2 separate regions of the Homo sapiens genome follow, and region 1 is linked to region 2. Evidence: fine-mapped QTL for protein levels in blood plasma. A gene starts in region 2. The other region holds a variant in brackets. All regions are shown on one strand. Distances are from middle to middle.

Evidence for each region. PIP is the posterior inclusion probability: the model's chance that the variant is causal. The UK Biobank Pharma Proteomics Project read protein levels with antibody pairs (Olink). The fine-mapping took linkage between variants from a reference panel, not from the people measured, so its PIPs are less certain.
Region 1: its variant is fine-mapped to the plasma level of the PDE5A protein (UK Biobank, PIP above 0.99).

What each region holds. Positions count from the first base shown.
Region 1 is chr4:119,651,048-119,660,686 of GRCh38, reverse strand. No RefSeq gene overlaps it. Among named protein-coding and RNA genes, the nearest start is that of PDE5A, 27 kb to the right of the region's middle. The variant A/G (reference allele first, on the strand shown) is at 5,024.
Region 2 is chr4:119,624,645-119,634,073 of GRCh38, reverse strand. PDE5A (phosphodiesterase 5A) reads left to right here and starts at 5,270. Exons shown (of 21, transcript NM_001083.4): 1 at 5,270-5,554. The coding sequence starts at 5,403. LOC107986192 (a long non-coding RNA gene) reads right to left here and starts at 6,284. Exons shown (of 1, transcript NR_165235.1): 1 at 3,319-6,284. RefSeq lists silencers at 4,937-5,336, 6,557-6,836 and an enhancer at 6,377-6,426.

The DNA of each region.
Region 1 (9,639 bases), 27 kb before region 2:
GGAGGGTGAGACAGGCAGAGTACGAGGTCAGGAGTTTGAGATCAGCCTGGCCAACACAGTGAAACCCTGTCTCTGTTAAAATAAATAAATAAATAAATACAAAAATTAGCTGGGCGTAGTGGCAGGCACCTGTAATCCCAGCTACTTGGGAGGCTGAGGCAAGATGATCGCTTGAACCCAGGAGGCAGAGTTTGCAGTGAGCTGAGATCGCGCCACTGCACTCCAGCCTGGGCAACAGTGTGAGACTCTGTCTCAAAAAAATAAAAAAATAAAAAAATAAAATATATATATATATATAGATAGATAAAATGCTTTTTACTTTTGAATGCTAGAACAAAATTAAAATAATTGTGAATATTAGTAAAAATTATATGGTGTTTAATGCTTAGTTGTACATATTTATGAGCATGATGACAACATTATTTAAGCTAAATATTCAGCTATGCACACTCGTAAGAGTAAAGTTATATTTAAGCTAGGATGTTGAAGGTAAGGTTGTGTAGAATGGGTAGGTTAGGTTATACACAACTATGTAAGCACATGATAGCTTAAAGGAAGGGTCAAAGGGTCTTTGAGGAGCGAATAGTTTAATGTCTCAATAATAATAATAACAATAATGAAAATTACAGTTATACCAATATAGTTCCAGGGTGAATAAATAGTAAATCAATGAATGAAACATTCAGTCAATGACTAAGCTAAAAGCCTCCAAACAAAACTGAGAAATGCTTAAAGTGTTTGAAGGCAAGATCTTTAGATGAATATTTACATAAGCATGGAAAAACACATAGCAACCACTTCATCAGAATATACATGGAAATGTCAACAGAAGACTCTCAAAATCCCTAACACAGCAGATAATGGCCTGAAGCATCTGGCCATATCTTATCAGCTTGCAGAATCCATCTGGACAAATCATTCTTGTCATTTTTTATGTAAACTGGAATAATCCTCTCTTTAACTAGAAACTAAAGTGCTGGCTACAATCACAGTCACCTCATTTGTGGTTTGTAAGACTCAACCAAGGGAATGTGTGCAGAAAAGTACAAACAGCCACTATAACAAATGTCACTCCACCCTACCACATGTTCAAATAAATTTACCTAGTTTTTAAAACCTACTACAAATGCTGAACACCATGTTGGGGAGCAGAAAATTAAGTTCTCAAATAATACTAAGTTGGGTGGGTTAAGCATTGACAAAAACAAGCTAATTACCAGGAAAGATTGGTTATGAATATAAGAAAAAAATAGTCTAAAGAGTCACAAGGGACTATAAATTAACTGTGTTATCCCCATCGCTAACTATATACTGTCATATAACACTTACAAGTAGGATGGATGGGAAGATGAAAGCTAGAAAATATTTTCCCCTCTAAATTAACATAGGTTAAATCTTAATTCAGAAGTTTGCATTTGGGAGGCTTATACTGCAAAAAAAAAATTGAAATATAAGTGACAATCTTAGGAAGAATAAGAAATAATTTAAAATATGACAAGCTCTATGAAACATTAAAGATGCTTAGATAAGAAAAAGGATTGTTCTGTTTTCTGAAATGTGTAACTCCCACTTATTTCAGCATAATATAAAATGAAATATTCACTTGCTGATTTTAGAGAGAATGGAACTTTTTATAACCCTTTTATGGGAGGATGCTATCAAATCCTGTATAACCACAATAAGATATCAGTTCATACTAAGACAGCTATAATTTAGAAGATGGACCATAACAAGTGTTGGCAAGGATGTAGAGAAATTGGAACCCTCATACATTGCTTGTGGGAATGTAAAATAGTGTGATCATTATGGAAAATGATTTGGTGGTTCCTCAAAAAGTTAAACATAGATTTGTCATATGACCCAGCAATTCTACTCCTAAATATACAAGAAAATTTAAAATATATGTTTACACAAAAACCTGCACATGAATGTTCATAGCAGCATTATTCATAATAGCCAAAAAGTGGAAAAATCAATTGAAGAATGAATAAACAAAATGTGGTATGCTCTTATGATGAAATACTACTCAGTCCTAAAAAGAAATAATACATGTTACTACATAGATGAACCTTGAAAACATTATATTGAATGAAAGAAACCAGACACAAAAGGCTACATATTGTATAATTTCATTTATATTAAATGTCCAAAATAAGCAAACTATTAAGACAGAAAGTCGATTAGTTGGGCTGCATGGGAGGCAGTGGGAAGTGACAACTAAATGGGTCAGGATTTATTTTGAAAGTAATGAAAATGTTCTGAAATTGGATAGCGGTGATGGTTGCATGATTTTGTTTTAGAATATACTAAAAACCATTAAATTATATACTTTATTTGTTTGTTGTTTGTTTGTTTATTTTTGAGACAGAGTACCCAGGTTGGAGTGCAGTGGCGTGATCTCGGCTCACTGCAACCTCCACCGGGTTCGAGTGATTCTTGTGCCTCAGCCTCCAGAGTAACTGGGACTACAGGCATGCCCCACTATGCCTGGCTAATTTTTGTATTTTTTGTAGAGACAGGGTTTCTTCATGTTGGCCAGGCTTGTCTCGAACTCCTTACCTCAAGTGATCCACCCACCTCAGCCTCCCAAAGAGCTGGGATTGTAAGTGTGGACCACCACACCCAGCCTTAATCATACACTTTAAAAAGGTGAATTTTGTGGTATATGAATTATATTTCAATTTAACAGAAAAACTTGTATATGTGGGAAGTAACTAATTTTAGAAAAATAACTATTATCTTTTAGAAAAAGAAATTTTGTCTTATAATCTAAACTTCTTCAGCTTATAAAATATCCATCAAAAGGATAGTGCACATCAGCTGTTCCCTGTTCTGTAGAAAAGATGAAATAAAAATAAAAATGCTAAAATTATAAGCTTCATAATACATGGTTTCTTCCTGTATAAATTTTCCTGTCCAGTGGAGTAGGCAGACATACAGACAAATAATGACATGACATGAGATACATGGAAATAAATAAAGAGATCTATACAAGGTATGATAACAGAGGAGAGAGGATGTACATCTGAGTGGCATCAGGGCTTAAGAAGCATCAAAGATAGTATAATTTCATCTGAGTCTTGATGAAAGAATGCATATTCACCAGACACACAAGGTGAAGGCCAAGCATTTCAAGTTGTGGTAACACATGCAAGACAGAGATCTGGAAGAGCATTTCAGCTTCATAGATCTGCAAGTCTTTCTGTTGGGCCAGAACATAAGAGCTTTTGCAGACAAGCTGATGAGGGTTAAGAGGTATTATTCTTACAATGAAAGCAACCATAACCTCCCTCATGGGAGATAGAGTCATCAAAGATATTGTTCAAGGATGTGAAATATTCAGATTTCAATTTAGATAGATTATGCTGGCAGAAATGTAGGGCAAGAATTGGAGGAATCCAAGAATGGAGTCCAGGAGATCCTTAGAGAATAAATGGTTAAGGCAAGGAAATGATGAAGTGGAATAAAGATAAGGTGACCAGCTACAGAGGTACTTAGAAAGGCATGTGAACTGGGGAAAGAGGAGGAATTGAGAATGACTCATCTCTGACTTAGGCAGGAAGAACAAGGTTTGTTTGTGTTTTTTGAATTTGTAATCAAATTGCATTTAAACTTTAATATGGAATTTGAGGTGTCTGTTCCAGGTATAAGAAACCTAGAAGGCAGAGCTTTGAGTTTGCAGTTCAGTGAAGAAAGTCTGGGCTGGAGATATGAATTTGAGAGGGTTTAGAATATACCTCAAGTAGTGGGAATGAATGAGGTTGCCCAGGAAAAACAGAAAAAAGGACAGAAACCATCAGAAGCCCAGATTAGAGGTAAGACAGTACAGAGATGGCACATATTTCTCAATAAGTATTTGTCAAATAAATGAGCATATAAAAATCATATTTGCTTCCAAGGATAGCAGACAGGGTGAGGGGAGGAATATGGAATCAAAAGAGGTGCTATCAAATCTTTTCTAATTGTTTGTATATCACAATGAGAAATAAAAATCCATTTTTCTCAACATTGTCTGGACATATTATGTTGGGAGTTTTCAGCTCAGAGATGAGATTGCCAGAAAATAAGTATGAATAGAGAGAAGGGAGCTGAAGACTGAGTCCTGGTCAGGAGGCAGAGGCAGCTCAAGCAACAAAGACAGACAAGGCAGCCAGTGAAATAGGGCTCAAAGCAGATCAGTGTAGTGATTTGAAAACCAAATGAAGAAAATGGTGAAGGGATGGTCAGCTGTGCCAAATGCTGCTGATAGGTCAAGTTAGATGAGGACTGAGAATTTTATGCTGGATGTGGCAAGACAGAGGTCATTTGTGACCTTAAAGAGTGCTTTTCTGTGGAGTGGAAGGGAAGAAAGCCTAACTGCAGTGAGTTCCAGAGAGAGAGTTCTGTGAGAGAGTAAAATAAATTTGGCAAATACCTTAAAAAGAATATGTAAAAAGTTACATAGATGGGTAAATAGATAGCTGGACTCCAATTTTGCTTAAATGGGATTTACATATCCAGATAAGATTATGTAAGATTTTATTAAAATTCTACAAACTGACAGGTATAGAAAGATATTTGTTTTGAAACATTTTGTAGAAATATTGCTTAAAAAAATCAAGGAGGTTCAGGTAAAAGACCCAGGCAGAGAATGAGGAGGAGAAGAAAAGAGAAAACAGGGAATTCTACCATAAAGGGGGAGCAGAAAAATGGGCAAAGCTGAGGTGGGATGTGGAGTGGAGGGAGGGCTCTTTATAAATATAAATAAATATATATAATATATATTACGTGTAATATACACACACACATACATATATATATAAAAGATTGGAAGGTATCACAGCATGTATTGATGCTTTGGGGATGAAATAAAGTGTGATTATACAGAAGAGGCAGGGGATCAGCAAAGGCTCACAGAAATTAAGGAGGAACAGGACCTGGTACACAAGCAGAGAGGCAAGAGCCATGCTTATCCCCTAGAATGGCAGGAAAGGCAGAGCATGTGGGTCCAGCTGTAGGAAGGGTAATAGATTTGGGGGAATGT[A/G]ATTTTGCAGATAAGGAAAAAAGAGAGTCATAAATAACTTGCCAAGAACCAGGAAACCAGAATAGCTAATTTAATATCCATCTCAAAATTAATGTGGCATATGTTAAATGTTGATCTAAATGGGACATAGTATCATTATTTAAAAATAATAGTATTATCTTTGTAAAGTAGTTCTAGTCTCTTTGTAAGTGTAAGAACAAAACGCTATAAAAGTTTGAATATAGGTGGAAGCAGTTGGTTTTAACATACCAAATAATGAAAGCATTTACATGGGAATCCATGTGAAGGAACTTCTAATACAACTGCAGGATTTCTATGGTCAGTTGACTAGCCTGACGTTAAACAGGAAGCCATCATAGCAATATTTATTTTAGGGATACATATCCAAATCAAACAAGCTCAGAGGGATACACTTCCTTGCAAAATGAATGGAAAATAAATAGTCTAATAGCTATCTTCCCAGTAATAGTATATTTTCACAAATCGCTTTTAAATAATGACGATTTTAGATAGGAAGTATTCAAAATTCTTCATCAATGAATACACAAATAGATGAATAAATCTTAAAAAAACATTATGGATCCTATGAATAGTTGAATTATTCTCAATAAATGACTTACCTGCCCTTCTAGAACATTGCCCGTTTGGGTCCTAAAGCAGCAAAAACAGTTTTATAAATTCTAAATCCTTTAGCTTTTGTAAAATCATAATAATAATATACGGGATAAATCTATCTGAATAGAGTCACATTTTTACTAGATACTGGGAAAGGCTTGAACAAGCAAGGTGATTTGGATTTCAAAAGGCATTTAGGAGATATTTTATCTCTTAAATTTAAACTTAATAGTGGATACGATTATCATACCTATTCAGGTTTTTACTGACTTGTTTTGCAACTACATTTTCTTTACAGTTAATAATTAGGTTTCCTTTAAATTAAAAGGTTTGGATGCTGTTTCTACCTTTTATAAGGGGATAATGTGGCTTAAATAATCTGGGCTTTTAAGTCCAACAGGGAAAATAATTGTATTTAAATAAAGCACTTTGTATATAGTGATAGTCAATAAATATCTGCTAATTTGGTTTCAACATTGTAGCTATTTCACATGATGTAATAAATGTTTAACATAATGAACTATGAGTTCAAGGATGAGTTGGAAAACAGTTGCTATAAGATTCATCAGGGACAACACAGTGAAAAAATTCTGACCAACAGATTGGATGTCCTACTTTTTATTGAATTATTTAAAAGATAAATTTATTGTTTATTTTAGTAAATGCAAAATATTAAGACGAAATCTCTCTGGAATTCCAAAAGCCAATATTCTAGCTTTCATAAGAGCGGGATTAGTTTTTACCACTTTACTCCAAATAAATACGCCATGAATACTAGTTGGGATGGAAAATAAGCAAACTTAAGAAGACATAAAAACTAATTGCTTTTTGTTTCATTTTTGAGATGGCGGTCTCACTCTGTTGCCCAAGCTGGAGTGCTGTGACCAATCATAGCTCACTTCAGGCTTAAACTCCTGGGCTCAAGTGATTCTCCTGCCTTAGCCTACCAAGCTTTTAATATATTTTTTAAGAGATGGGGATCTCACTATGTTGTCCAAGCTGGTCTTGAATGCCAAGCAATCCTCCTACCTCAGCCTCCTGAGTAGCTGGGATTACAGGTTTGAGCCACTGCACCTGGCCCAAAAATTGCTTTAAAAAATATATATAGTAACTTGATTATAGGCCATAAGTAATCATTTAACAGATAAAAACTTTTAAAGTTTTTAAGTAAATTAGGTTCCTATTTTATACTCTATAGTATATTCAAGGCATGAGCTTACTTTTGGAATATAAATATAAATAAAATGATAATTCACAAATTGCTAATTGCTCTTCCCTGCTAGGTCTTTGAACAAAATGCACATGGCATTTTAGGTTAATTGCTTAAGATAGTCTCAATTTGAAACCCCATATTGATAGCTCTGTGATCATTTAAATTCAGAATATCTTTTTTAAATTATGTATATTTTCATCATCTACTTAAGGGTCAAATGTTGTTTTTGAGCTTAAAAAGTATCATTCCTAATTGAAATAAATTTTAATGGCTGTGATTCCAGTGGTCTTTAAAAGTGCATTAAAAGTAATTTGTGGTCTTGGCTTAATTTGTTGGCTTTTTAAAATCTTTTAAGCCTTTTTAAAAAAATTGTAGTAATTCCATATGGTGTTAAAATATGCAAAGGTTATACAGGAATTCATACATAAATTATGTACCCATCTTCACTCTTCACTTTTCTTTGCCAAATAAATTATTACTTGAGTTTCCTGCTATCACAGGATACATATAATTTCACAAAACATACAATATACAATGTTAGGGAACTAGAACTTGATGACTTCAGATGCACAGGCATATTTGAATTGCTAAGTTTTTAAACTAATGTGGTCTTCAGAAGGGCTGTATTTGACTTGGCAGGCCCCTATGTATAAACTTCTGGGTTTGCAAGACAGTCCTACCATTTTGATACCATGAGTCAGGCCTGTCTTTTTTTAATGTGTTGTATTGACTCAACACCAGAGTTATATTTACAGCAGAACTGTTGATTAGAATAAAATGTGGATGGTGTATCGGTTAGAATAGTTTCACCTACAAATAACAGAAAGCCCAACTCAAACTAGCCTAAACAATCAGGTATTAATTGGCTTCTCGTCTAGAAGAGAGACTGGAAATATTTTACTTCTGGAAGAAGAGAAGGAGGGCAGGTGATTTTATTCTGTGGTTCTAGCTCATTTCTCTGTTCTTAATAGAAGCTTCATGTTCAGGGTAGTAGCAAAACAGCTATAGAAGGATCCTGACAATGTTCGAAGAAGAGGGTCACACTGAGAATCTCTCTCATTACAATGATGAATGCTTCTCAAAGAATCCTTTGAAAATCCACCCTAATATTATTAATTGGGTCACACATCATCTTCTGTACCAATCACTGGCTCTAGGAATGAACTTAGCCTTAGATACAGCAAAGTCATCCCTGGATCCAGCAGTGAAGTCAGGTCCTCCTTAGGCCCATGTGAGGTGTGAGACAGTAGAAGATACCTGCATAAGGCCTGGATATTGTTAGATGAAGGAAAATAATGAATGCCAGTAGAGAGCAGAAATGTCTATGTCAAATGGTGATTGGTGGTCACATGTAAAATGTAGCCCTCCAAAAATCAAAAGCAATACTCTTCCATACATAAAGGATTTTTATTCTGTAGCTGTAGAATGACTCAGAGTTGGGAGACTTTTTGCAATTCCATCTTTCAAGTTCATGGGGTGCTTTTAAACTTTTTTTGAAAGGGGATACATACCAGGTCAGTCATTCTGTAGCAACTATTTTTTAAATCAGTCTGTAACTTTGGAAATGGTATCAAACATTCCATTTGTTTCCCCTATTTGTTACTGTGCATTTCAAAGTATATATTTGCTAACCTTTATTCAACCAAACTTTAACAAGCACTTCCTATATTTAATGCATAATACTGGGCGTTTTTAAATACATCTATTATACATGTTTGACACATGTATGATTCATGTTAAATTGGTAGAGGAGGTGGAGTTTAAGATGGATATGCTGAGCTACTTGCTAATAGGAATGAGTGATTTATTGTCGCAAAATAAGAGATATTCAAATTGTTGTTACATTACATCTTCTATTTATATTATATTTTGATTTTGTCCCTAGACTAGCTACATTTAAGCATCCTACTAGTAGTATTCATACTTCACTTGTCACTTGATTTGTGTGACCTTAATTGATGTTTATACAACCCATTATATGATTAGAGATCATCCTCATAAACATCTAGAAGAAATTCTTAAGCTCTGTAAACCTACTTCCTCATTTATAAAATGGAAAGAAAATCTACCTTACTGAATGTGGGAAAGTTTAAATGAGATGAGGTGTGTAAAATCTTAGGGCCATGTCTGACATAAAGTATTCCCTCAACAGGCCAGGTGCGGTGGCTCACGCCTGTAATCCCAGCACTTTGGGAGGCTGAGGTGGGCTGATCACAAGGTCAGGAGTTAGAGACCAGCCTAACCAACATGGTGAAACCTTGTCTCTACTAAAAATACAAAAATTAGCCAGGTGTGGTGGCGCATACCTGTAATCCCAGCTATGCAGGAGGCTGAGGAAGGAGAATCATTTGAACCTGGGAGGCAGAGGTTGCAGTGAGCCAAGATTGCACCACTGCACTCCACCCTGGGTGACAGAGCAAGACTCTGTCACAAAAAAAATAAATAAATAAAAAATAAAAAGTGTTCCCTCAATAAAAGATAAGCAACTTTTGGGAAATGCCTATTGATGCAGACTCCCAATTAAAGAAGTTAACATTCTAAGGGTAGGAGGCATATAAATGCAAGTCCTTTAATTTCATAGTACTGTATTACAGAATTACTGTAATTACTGTGTGTGTGTGTGTGTGTGTGTGTGTGTGTGTGAGTGTGTGTGTTTATTAACGGCAAGAGTAAAGAATATGGAGACTGGTATAGTCTAGTTTAAATTTCCAAAAGTACCAAAAGCATAGGCTAGAAATCTCTTTGTAAATTTTCTGACACTAAACAAATGTTGTCTGTAGCTAGTATG
Region 2 (9,429 bases):
TTCCTACCAGCAATGTGTGAGAGTTCTGACTGCTACATATCTAACACCAAACATCATGTGGCGTTAGCAGTCTTTTTAATTTTGACCATTCTAGAGGGTGGAGGCAGATCTCACGGTGGTTTAACTTGCATTTCCCTGAAGACTTAGGTGTTGAGTATTTTTACATGTGCTTAGTGAACTTTCACATGTCTTACTTTATTAAGTGTCTGCTTAAGTCCTTTGCTAGTTTTTCCCCTATTGAGACATTTATCTTTTTATTATTAAGCTGTGGAGTTCTCTATGTATTCTGGATACAAGTCCCTGTTAGATAAATGTTTTGCAAACATTTTCTTCTAGTTTGTGGATTTTTATTTTCCTTATAGTGTCTTTCAAAGAGTAAAAGATTTTAATAAAATCTAGATGTTGTTGTTGTTTCCGTACAGTTAATTGATTTCTGTGTCCTCCTAAGAAATCCCTGCTGCTCCCAAGTTGTAAAGATATTCTTCTATGTCGCCTCCTAGAAATCACATTTAGTTTTTAGATCTGTTTCATTCCTAATTAACGTTTATATATAATATAAAATATTGGTTGAGGATACTATTTTTCCATATAAAGATCCAGTTGTTAAAGCATTATTTATTGAAAAAAACTTTACTTTTATTTAAAGAATAACTGGTACCTTTGTTGAAAATCAACTAGTTGTATAAATGATATTTCTAAACTCTTTATTCTATTCTATGGTTCTGTTTGACTAACCATATGCAAATGCCATACTGCCTTGATTATTATAGCTTTATAGTAAATCTTAAAGCTAGGTAGCATAAGTTCTCTAGTTTTATTCTTTTTCAATATTGTTTTGCCATTCTGTATCTCTTGCATTTCCATAGAAAATTTGTTATCTGATTTTCGCTTTCCATGAAAATGTCTGCTGAAATACGATTGGGATCATATTGCTCGGTTTGGAAAGAATAAACATCATAATAATATTGAGTCTGCCGATCAATGAATGTATCTGTCCATTTATTTAGGTCTTTTTGCATTTCTCCCAGTAATGTTTTATAACTTTTAGTGTATATTTCTTATGTATATTTTGCCAAATTTATCCCTAAGTATTTAATGTTTTTTACACGATTATAAATAATATTGTTTTCAAATTGTTCACTGTTAGTTGTATTAGTTTGTTAGTGTTGCCGTAACAAAGTACCACACGCTGGGTGGCTTAAATAACAGAAATTGATCTTGCCACTGTGCTGGGGACTAGAAGTCCAAGATCAAGGTGCCAGCAGGTTGGATTCCTTGGAGGTGTCTCTCCTCGGTTTGCAAATGGCCATTCTCTTGCTGCCTCTTCACACGGTTATCCCTCTGTGGGAGAGTATCACCGGTGTCACTTTTTTGTGTGTGCAAATTCCCTCTTCTTATAGTGGCACCAGTCAGATTGGATTAGGGACCACTCTCATGACCTCATCTAACCTTGATTGCCTCTTTAAAGGCCCTATCTCCAAATACAATCACATTCTGTGGTACTAGGGGTTAGGGCTTCAACATATGAATCTGGGGAAACAAATCAGCCCATAAGACTAGTATACAGAGATACAATTGATTTTTGTATACTGACCATTTATGCTGCAAGCTTGCTGAATCACCTCTTAATTCTTGTAGTTGCTTTGTGCATTCCTTTGGGTATTCCTCATAGATACTCATGTCTGCAAATGGAGAATGTTTACTTTTTCATTTTTATGCCTTATATTTCTTTTTTGTGTTTTTGCTTTGTTGCATTTGTTTTTTCTATTTGTATGACCAAAATCTTTAGCAGTACAGGTAGGTAACAACCAAATAATGTAGAACCCCATAAGCCACGTTACAGAGTTTGAATTTTATTTTAGCACAGTGGGAATACATTGAAGGTCTTTAGTTAAGCTGTTGCTCATGAGCAACAAATGAGCAATGACATATATGTATGTATATACACATATATATCATTGATTTTATATATATATATATATATATCTTAGTCCACTTGTGTTGCAATAACAAAATACCACAGACTGGGTCATTTACAAAAATTAAATATATATATACATATACACACATATATATATCATACATATACACATACATACATCATTGCTCATTTGTTTGTTATAAATAGCATTAACAGCATTTTTCAAGTTATATCCTGGGAGTGTTTATGATTTACTTATTCTTCAACTAATTCCATAACAAGATTTGAGGTGCTTAGAACAATTCATGCCAAGTTAAAACAAAATAATTGGGCAAATTGGGATAAAGAATAAAATGGAGTTGAAAAACAAGAGGCCCAGGTAATGTCAGTTCAAAATATGCTTACCTTTAACTACTTTAAATTTACAGGAGGTATAGTTACACATTTTGGCTGAATCTCCCAGAGACTAGAACTGTTTGAGACACTTCTGTTCCCCAATCCCTTGTGATATGTTTCTCAGGTAATAGGCCTTCACAGTAACTCCCAAACTATCATATATACCACACAGACTTGAGATTCACTATTGAGAGAATCTATGTACTGTTTTTCTTTTTTTTTCTTTTTTGTTATAGAGCCGGGGGTCTTACACTGTCACTGAGGCTGAAGTGCAATGGCACGATCATGGCTCACTGCAGCCTTGACCTCCTGGGCTCAATCCTCTTGCCTCAGCCTCTCGAATAACTAGGATTACAGGTGTGTTCCCCCATGCCTGGCTAATTTTTAAAAATTTTGTGTAGAGATGGGGTCATGCCATGTGGCCCAGGCTGGTTCAAACTCCTGAGCTCAAGTATCCTTCTACCTCTCCCTCCCAAAGTTCTGAGATTACAGGAATGAGCCACTGTGCCCAGCCTATAGATTGTTTTTCTTGAAGCAATTTTTCAGAAACCTTCCTGGTTTCTGATAATTTAACCCTTTCAGGTTAGGAGAGAAAAATGAACATTTTGATATTACCCACTGTCTTAGTCCATTTGTGTTGCTGTAATAAAATATCACAGACTGGGATATTTATAAACAATAGAAATTAATTTCTCTCAGTTCTGGAGGCTGGAAACTCCAAAATCAAAGTGCCAGCAGATTTGGCAACTGGTGAGGGCTGCTCTTTGCTTACAAAATGGCACCTTGTTGCTGCATCCTCAGCAAGGGTCAGTGCTGTGTCTTCACATAGTGGAAAGAATAGAAGGGGCCAACTGTCTCCTTTGGGCCTTTTTTTAAAAAGGCACTAATGCATTCACAAAGGCAGAGCCCTAATGGTCTAATCACCACTTAAAGGCACCTCCTCTTAATACTGTTGAATTAGGGATTAAGTTTCAACATGAATTTTGGAGGGAATACAAACATTGAAATGATTATACGTGTTTATTTAATCAAGTATCCAACAAAAGCAAATAATTCAAGCCCCAAATTCACTGCATCTTTAGTAGATAAGCAGAGTTTTAAATTACGATTGATCTCCTGTTAGGAGGAATGCATGGATTTCCACAAGAAAAAACTGTACTGAGGAGAAACTTTCCACAGTAATGTGCCACTTTTCAGTCAACGACAGACCACATATATGAGTCCCATAAGATAATACTATATTTTTACTGTACCTTTTCTATGTTTAGATATGTTTAGACACACAAATATCATTGCATTACAATTGCCTACAGTATTCAGTACAGTAATATGCTGTATAGATTTGTGGTCTAGGAGCAATAGCCTAAGTGTGTAGTAGGCTGAGCCATCTATTTTGTGTTAGTACACTGTGATGTTCAGAGAAGGATGAAATTGCCTAAGGATACATTTCTCAGAATGTATCCTGTTGTTCGGTGACGCATGACTGTATTCCATGAGCACTATAATCACTATCATAGTAACACATTAGGAGAGAATTCTCATTTCTAAATCCAATATAATTTATCACCCATTAGTTCATACTCTACTGCTTTGATTGCTTTTCTTTGGTTGTGGCTACCTGCATACAGCAGTAAAGTTTCAGAAAAACTGAAGTCGCAAAAGGTCAATTACTCAATGAAGGAAAGATAAACCATTGCATTGGGGGACTAGAAGATACTTTTAAAAGTTCTCAGATTATCAATTTAATGATGTGTTTCTATGTAGTGAATAATGCCTTAAATTCTTGCCAAGAGTATTTAGAAGGAAGTTGTCAGAAGTATATCAGCTAACTCATTTTTTTTTATATCACTGCTAATGGTGTCATTCACACATTGTGCAACCCATAATTCCAGATTTAATTCTACCAAAAAATATAGGTCATTGCAAAATGCCATATTAAAACTGCCAATGCATGACAGGAAGATGGGGATGCAGACAAAGCAAAGGATGACACCAATTCCTTTTTTAAAGAAGCAAGATAGGGATTGGACAAAAAGGCTGAGCCATTTTTAATGGATACTTTTGAGGGAGTGTTAATTCCAATTTAATTAAAATGATGCATTAATTTAAAATTGGGATAACTGGTTGCCCTCGACTGCACCTGGGTTGCGCCAGTGCTCTCGGATTAACCTAATTGTACAGAGGTGCCCTTGTTTTCTAACTTCATGCACAAAGCATTGGAAATTATTTGTTTGCTTTTTCTTTTCCAAGTAAATCTTTTTCCAGTTATGCATAAGGGAAGTTTGAGGCAATGGTTAAAGGCACTTAAGTTATAATTATTGCTGTTATCATTAACATTAAGCACGGGTATGGCTTTGTTGCAAGTTACCCACCTACACCTGCAAATCTCTCTTGCTAGCACACGCCCCAGCTCTCTCCACCCGCAGTGGTCCGTGGCTGGACCGCTTTAAGTCACTGAGCGGGCTGGGCTCTGAAGGAGGTCGGTCCCGCTCCTCCCAGACCCAAGCGTAGGGCTAGGGAAAAGCTAGGCGGGAAGGTCATTGCACTCCCAGGCCCCAGGAAAAGGGCCCAGGGTCTCATCATCTCTTACTTTCGGGCAAAACTTCCCACATCGCGACCTTCCCTCCCTGGGGCACTCTGAGAACACACCCAGTCACCTAGCGCGCTCCCCAGAAGTCGGCTTGGCACACAGCGCACCCCAGCGGCCGCGCGGCCTCCTTCCAGCCGCCGCCACTTGGCTTCCGGAGAGCTCGCCGGGCGCTGCCGCTGCCGCCGCCGCCGCCGCCTCCTGGGAACCAGGGGACTGAAGAGCCTGCGAGAGCGGAACACTGCCGGACCCCGGGTGGGGGGGGCGCAGCAGCTGCGCCTGGCCCCGCCCACCACACCTGGGCGCCCGTAGAACCGCGCGGGGCGGGGCGGGGCAGGAGGCTGGCCTGGCGCTCCGGCCGCTTTGTCGAAAGCCGGCCCGACTGGAGCAGGACGAAGGGGGAGGGTCTCGAGGCCGAGTCCTGTTCTTCTGAGGGACGGACCCCAGCTGGGGTGGAAAAGCAGTACCAGAGAGCCTCCGAGGCGCGCGGTGCCAACCATGGAGCGGGCCGGCCCCAGCTTCGGGCAGCAGCGACAGCAGCAGCAGCCCCAGCAGCAGAAGCAGCAGCAGAGGGATCAGGACTCGGTCGAAGCATGGCTGGACGATCACTGGGACTTTACCTTCTCATACTTTGTTAGAAAAGCCACCAGGTAAGAAGAGGACCCACGGAAGACCCGGGGCTGATTTCTCTCCCCTGTTGAATTGTGCCCTTCGTTCACCCCTGTTCCCAGGCCCTTTGCTTTTGAAGTAGGTCCTCGGTCCTGTTACGAGGTAGAAACCTCAACTCTAAGCGAGCACAGTCGAAAAACTCAAGTGTCGGATTTGATACAACTTGCTCACAAAGTTCAAATACAAAAATGTACTTGCCGACCTCCCACCCTCACCCCCGACCCTCTTGGTATTCCCCGGGAACATGATTATTTTCATACATCCGTGCTCACGGGCCTTCCCCTAGCCCCTCTCTAGCCCTCTGGTTCCCCAAAATCCAATCAGCAAAACCCAAACAGTTTCTGAGCCCCTTCCCTGCAGCTCCGGAAGCACCATTTCCAAGTCGGTCTTGATGGCTCCGCTCCTCCCCCGTCCCCCCTCGCCCTGGCCCTGGCTGGGCGGGGAAGCTGGGGTGAGGGACGAGTCCACGGGACAGCCCAAAGGCAACATGACGGAACCTTGCCAAAGTGAGTGCGGTTGCCTTTTCCCCCCTTCCAGTCTCCTGCTTGTCCCGCGCGCCTCCTTTCACTCGCTTTTCCGCCGAAGGCTGTGCCGCCAAAAGTAGAGCTCTGCAGAGGGGTTTGCGGCGTGCACACAAAGGGCGCAGGGGAGGCGCCGCCTGGAGCGGACCCCAAGGGGCAGCGCAGACCCCAGAGGCCAGCTCTTTCTGGTCCAGAGCCAAGCGCCGGGGCGGCCCTTGCGGAGGGCGGGGAGGAGGGAGCCTGTCCTTTTGGAGGCGGCTGCGCAGCGGGCAGTCGGGGCGCTCGTGGGAAACGCTCGCGGGAGAGTTGGGGAGGAATTGAGACTGGGAGCAGAGGGACAAGAAGAGTGGAGCAGAGAGTGCTTGGCGGGCGGGTGCCCCGAAGCCTGAGGAATTGATGCATAGTCGGGGTGCGTGGACTCCAGGACGCGCCCCTTTGCAGAAAGAGTCCGTGCCCCGCTGCCGCCTGCTCTGGGCAGCGGCCGTCGGGCAGCGGGTGCTGGCCGTCTTGGCCGGGAGGGTGACACACGCCCGGCAGTGATGGTCGAGGAGCCCGCCCGGGTTCGACGCCCGGGTCCCACTCGCCGGCGCGCGGCCGCGGCTCTGCCGGTCGCTCCCCGCCAGGGGGCGGCGCAGCGCGGGGCGAGCGGGAGGCGACGGGCGGCGGCGCGGAGGCCGGGGCCGTGAGGGAGCTGGTTCTGAGTCGCCGACCTCACCTCACCTCACCTGCGCGCGTTGTTGCCCCTACGGAGCCTCCTGGAGTCCAGGATCGGCGGAGTTCGAAAACGAACTTCCCACGTTTGCTATGTTGCCCTTTGGAGACAAAACAAGGTACTTCCTTCAGCATCCCCCTACGTCCCTTCCCACTTTTTCCGGGGGCGCGGCGGGTCTCGGGTGCTGGGTGGTGGCGCCCCGGTGGCACCAGTGGGACGATGTATCATTGAAAATTGACTGTATAACTTTTGTTGTTGTTGTTATTCTTTGCTCTCTTGCAGATGTATTAATAAGGGTCTTAAATTGGGCCCTTTTTAATCTTGTTTTGTTTTGTTTTGTTTTGTTTTTTTCCTAAGGAACATCCAGAGTTGGTGTCAATTTAGTCACTTTCAGGGTTTTTTGACAGAGGGGAAGGCTCCGGGATTAATCTTTTCAATTTAATAACCCAGCCCTTCTTTTAAAATCGTCTTCCCCCGCTTTCACCTTCTTCCTTCAAAATCCTAAATCTTGAGCGCCCAGAGGATAGCCCTGAAAGGGCACTTTTTTGCGAGTTTAGCGTGAGACACTAAGGCCATGGAGGTCTAGAATGATCGGTTGCTGTCGACTAACAGTTTTCAGGGGTCACCTGCCCCTCTGAGGCCATCTGCACCCACTTTCCTTTCACTCTGCGCATTCCCAGCCTTCTGCTCTCCTTGAATTACAGCGCATAGAATGATCAGGGGGCCAGAGAACCAGGCCGATTTTTAAAAGTATGTATTGGACCTGTTCTTTAGGCAGATTATAAACAGTTTAAAGAAAAAAAGTTATTGTTTAATAAATCAGCATAAATGTCCTTTCTTCGTTCCCTATTTTTCTTTTAAAGATGTAAACTAGGGATGGCTTGTTGGTCGTTTTTGACTAGTCATAGATAGGAACACTGCATTTTCAGAACCTACCAACACTTTGAAAGTGTAGCAACATTTTAATGGAAAATAAATGGAAAGAGCTGAGTTACATTTCTTTTCCCATTACTTTTTCTCCCAAGCAGCATAGGATCAAAATCCTATTTCTCAAATTTACCATGCTCACTGTAAAATTTAGATCATCTGAGGCTCTAAAAAAACTTTTAAAAAATTTTCGGTTAGAGTTTTTAAATTACAGTTGATGTTGGCAACAGGCTGAACACTTTCTGTGATATATATATGTATGTGTGTATACATATTCTTAAGAGGTTATGTTGAGTGTAAGTTGGAAAATGAAAGTGTAAAATATTTAATAGTGCAGGTCCTCAATTTTAAGAGTTATAATAAAGTGCTGAGAGTTGTCAGAGTAAAGAATATAACCTAAGAATTTGTGTGTAGCCAGAGGTCTTTCATGAAACAATATTCCAATTTGGTTTTATATTTGGTGGCATTAACAGGAGACTTAAAATGTGAATAAGAGGATGGACATTTGTTGATTATAAAAATGCAAACCACTAACCCCAGTGTGGTTCACATTTTGTGGTAAAAACTTATTGCATACGTTTTAACTTTACAGCTAAGGATTTTTTTTTTTAAAAGTAGGAGCTCACATTACTTTGCTTTTCCCCTCTTTTTACACTTTGTAAGTGTAAAATGAATATTGTATGTGATTCAGGAAACCCATGAAACAAAATAGTTCTGTAGATGCATGCGGCATGTTTTAAGATTTAAAATATATTTATATTCACCCAGATCGTCCATCTGCACCAGTAATCAGGCTTGCTGATAAAAACAATTTCTGCATTATTGTTGTCATTCGACATTCATGCATGATTTTCCATCCTTTTCTCAGACTAAATGATCTACACTCAATGGTAGTTATTGAACATCAAGGTTCTGGCATTCCTAAATTCTCAAACACCTGTGAATTTGGGTTGACCTTGAAAGCATTTATGCCATTATATTACATTGTTTACTATCACTGTCTTCAAGTAGAGAGCTACGCATCTTATTAAAAGCTATAGGTTGGGCCTGGCACGGTGGCTCATGCCTGTAATCCCAGCACTTTGGGAGGCCGAGGCGGGCAGATCACGACGTCAGGAGTTCAAGACCAGCCTGACTGACCAACATGGTGAAACCCCGTCTCTACTAAAAATACAAAAATTAGCCAGGTATGGCGCGCGCCTGTAATCCCAGCTACTAAGGAGAATCGCTTGAACCCGGGAGGCAGAGGTTGCAGTGAGCCAAGATTGCTCCACTATACTCCAGCCTGGGCAACAGAGTGAGACTCCATCTCAAAAAAAAAAAAAAAAAGCTATAACTTGGAGCTTTTTAGTTATCACAACCTGTTTATGTCCATTTGAAGGTGTCAATTGAATGATTCAGAACATAGTCGGTTGGCATAAAAATTAATTTGAGGCCAATAAATCACATCTGGAAAACTCCCAGGTCACTATTGTAGACAATTTGCAGTCCTGAAGGCCTCAGCTACTGTGTTAATTGAGGGCTTTAATGCGTATGCCTTTTACAACTGAAGCTTTCCTGGTGCTAATGCTGCTTAACAGCTGTTGTTATTCTTGACAGCATATTAGAATAAAGTTACCTTTCATTAATTACTAATCAGCTCTGTGATTGTGGGTGATGTTTTAGGTCATTTAATATTGTTAAGGATGACATGATT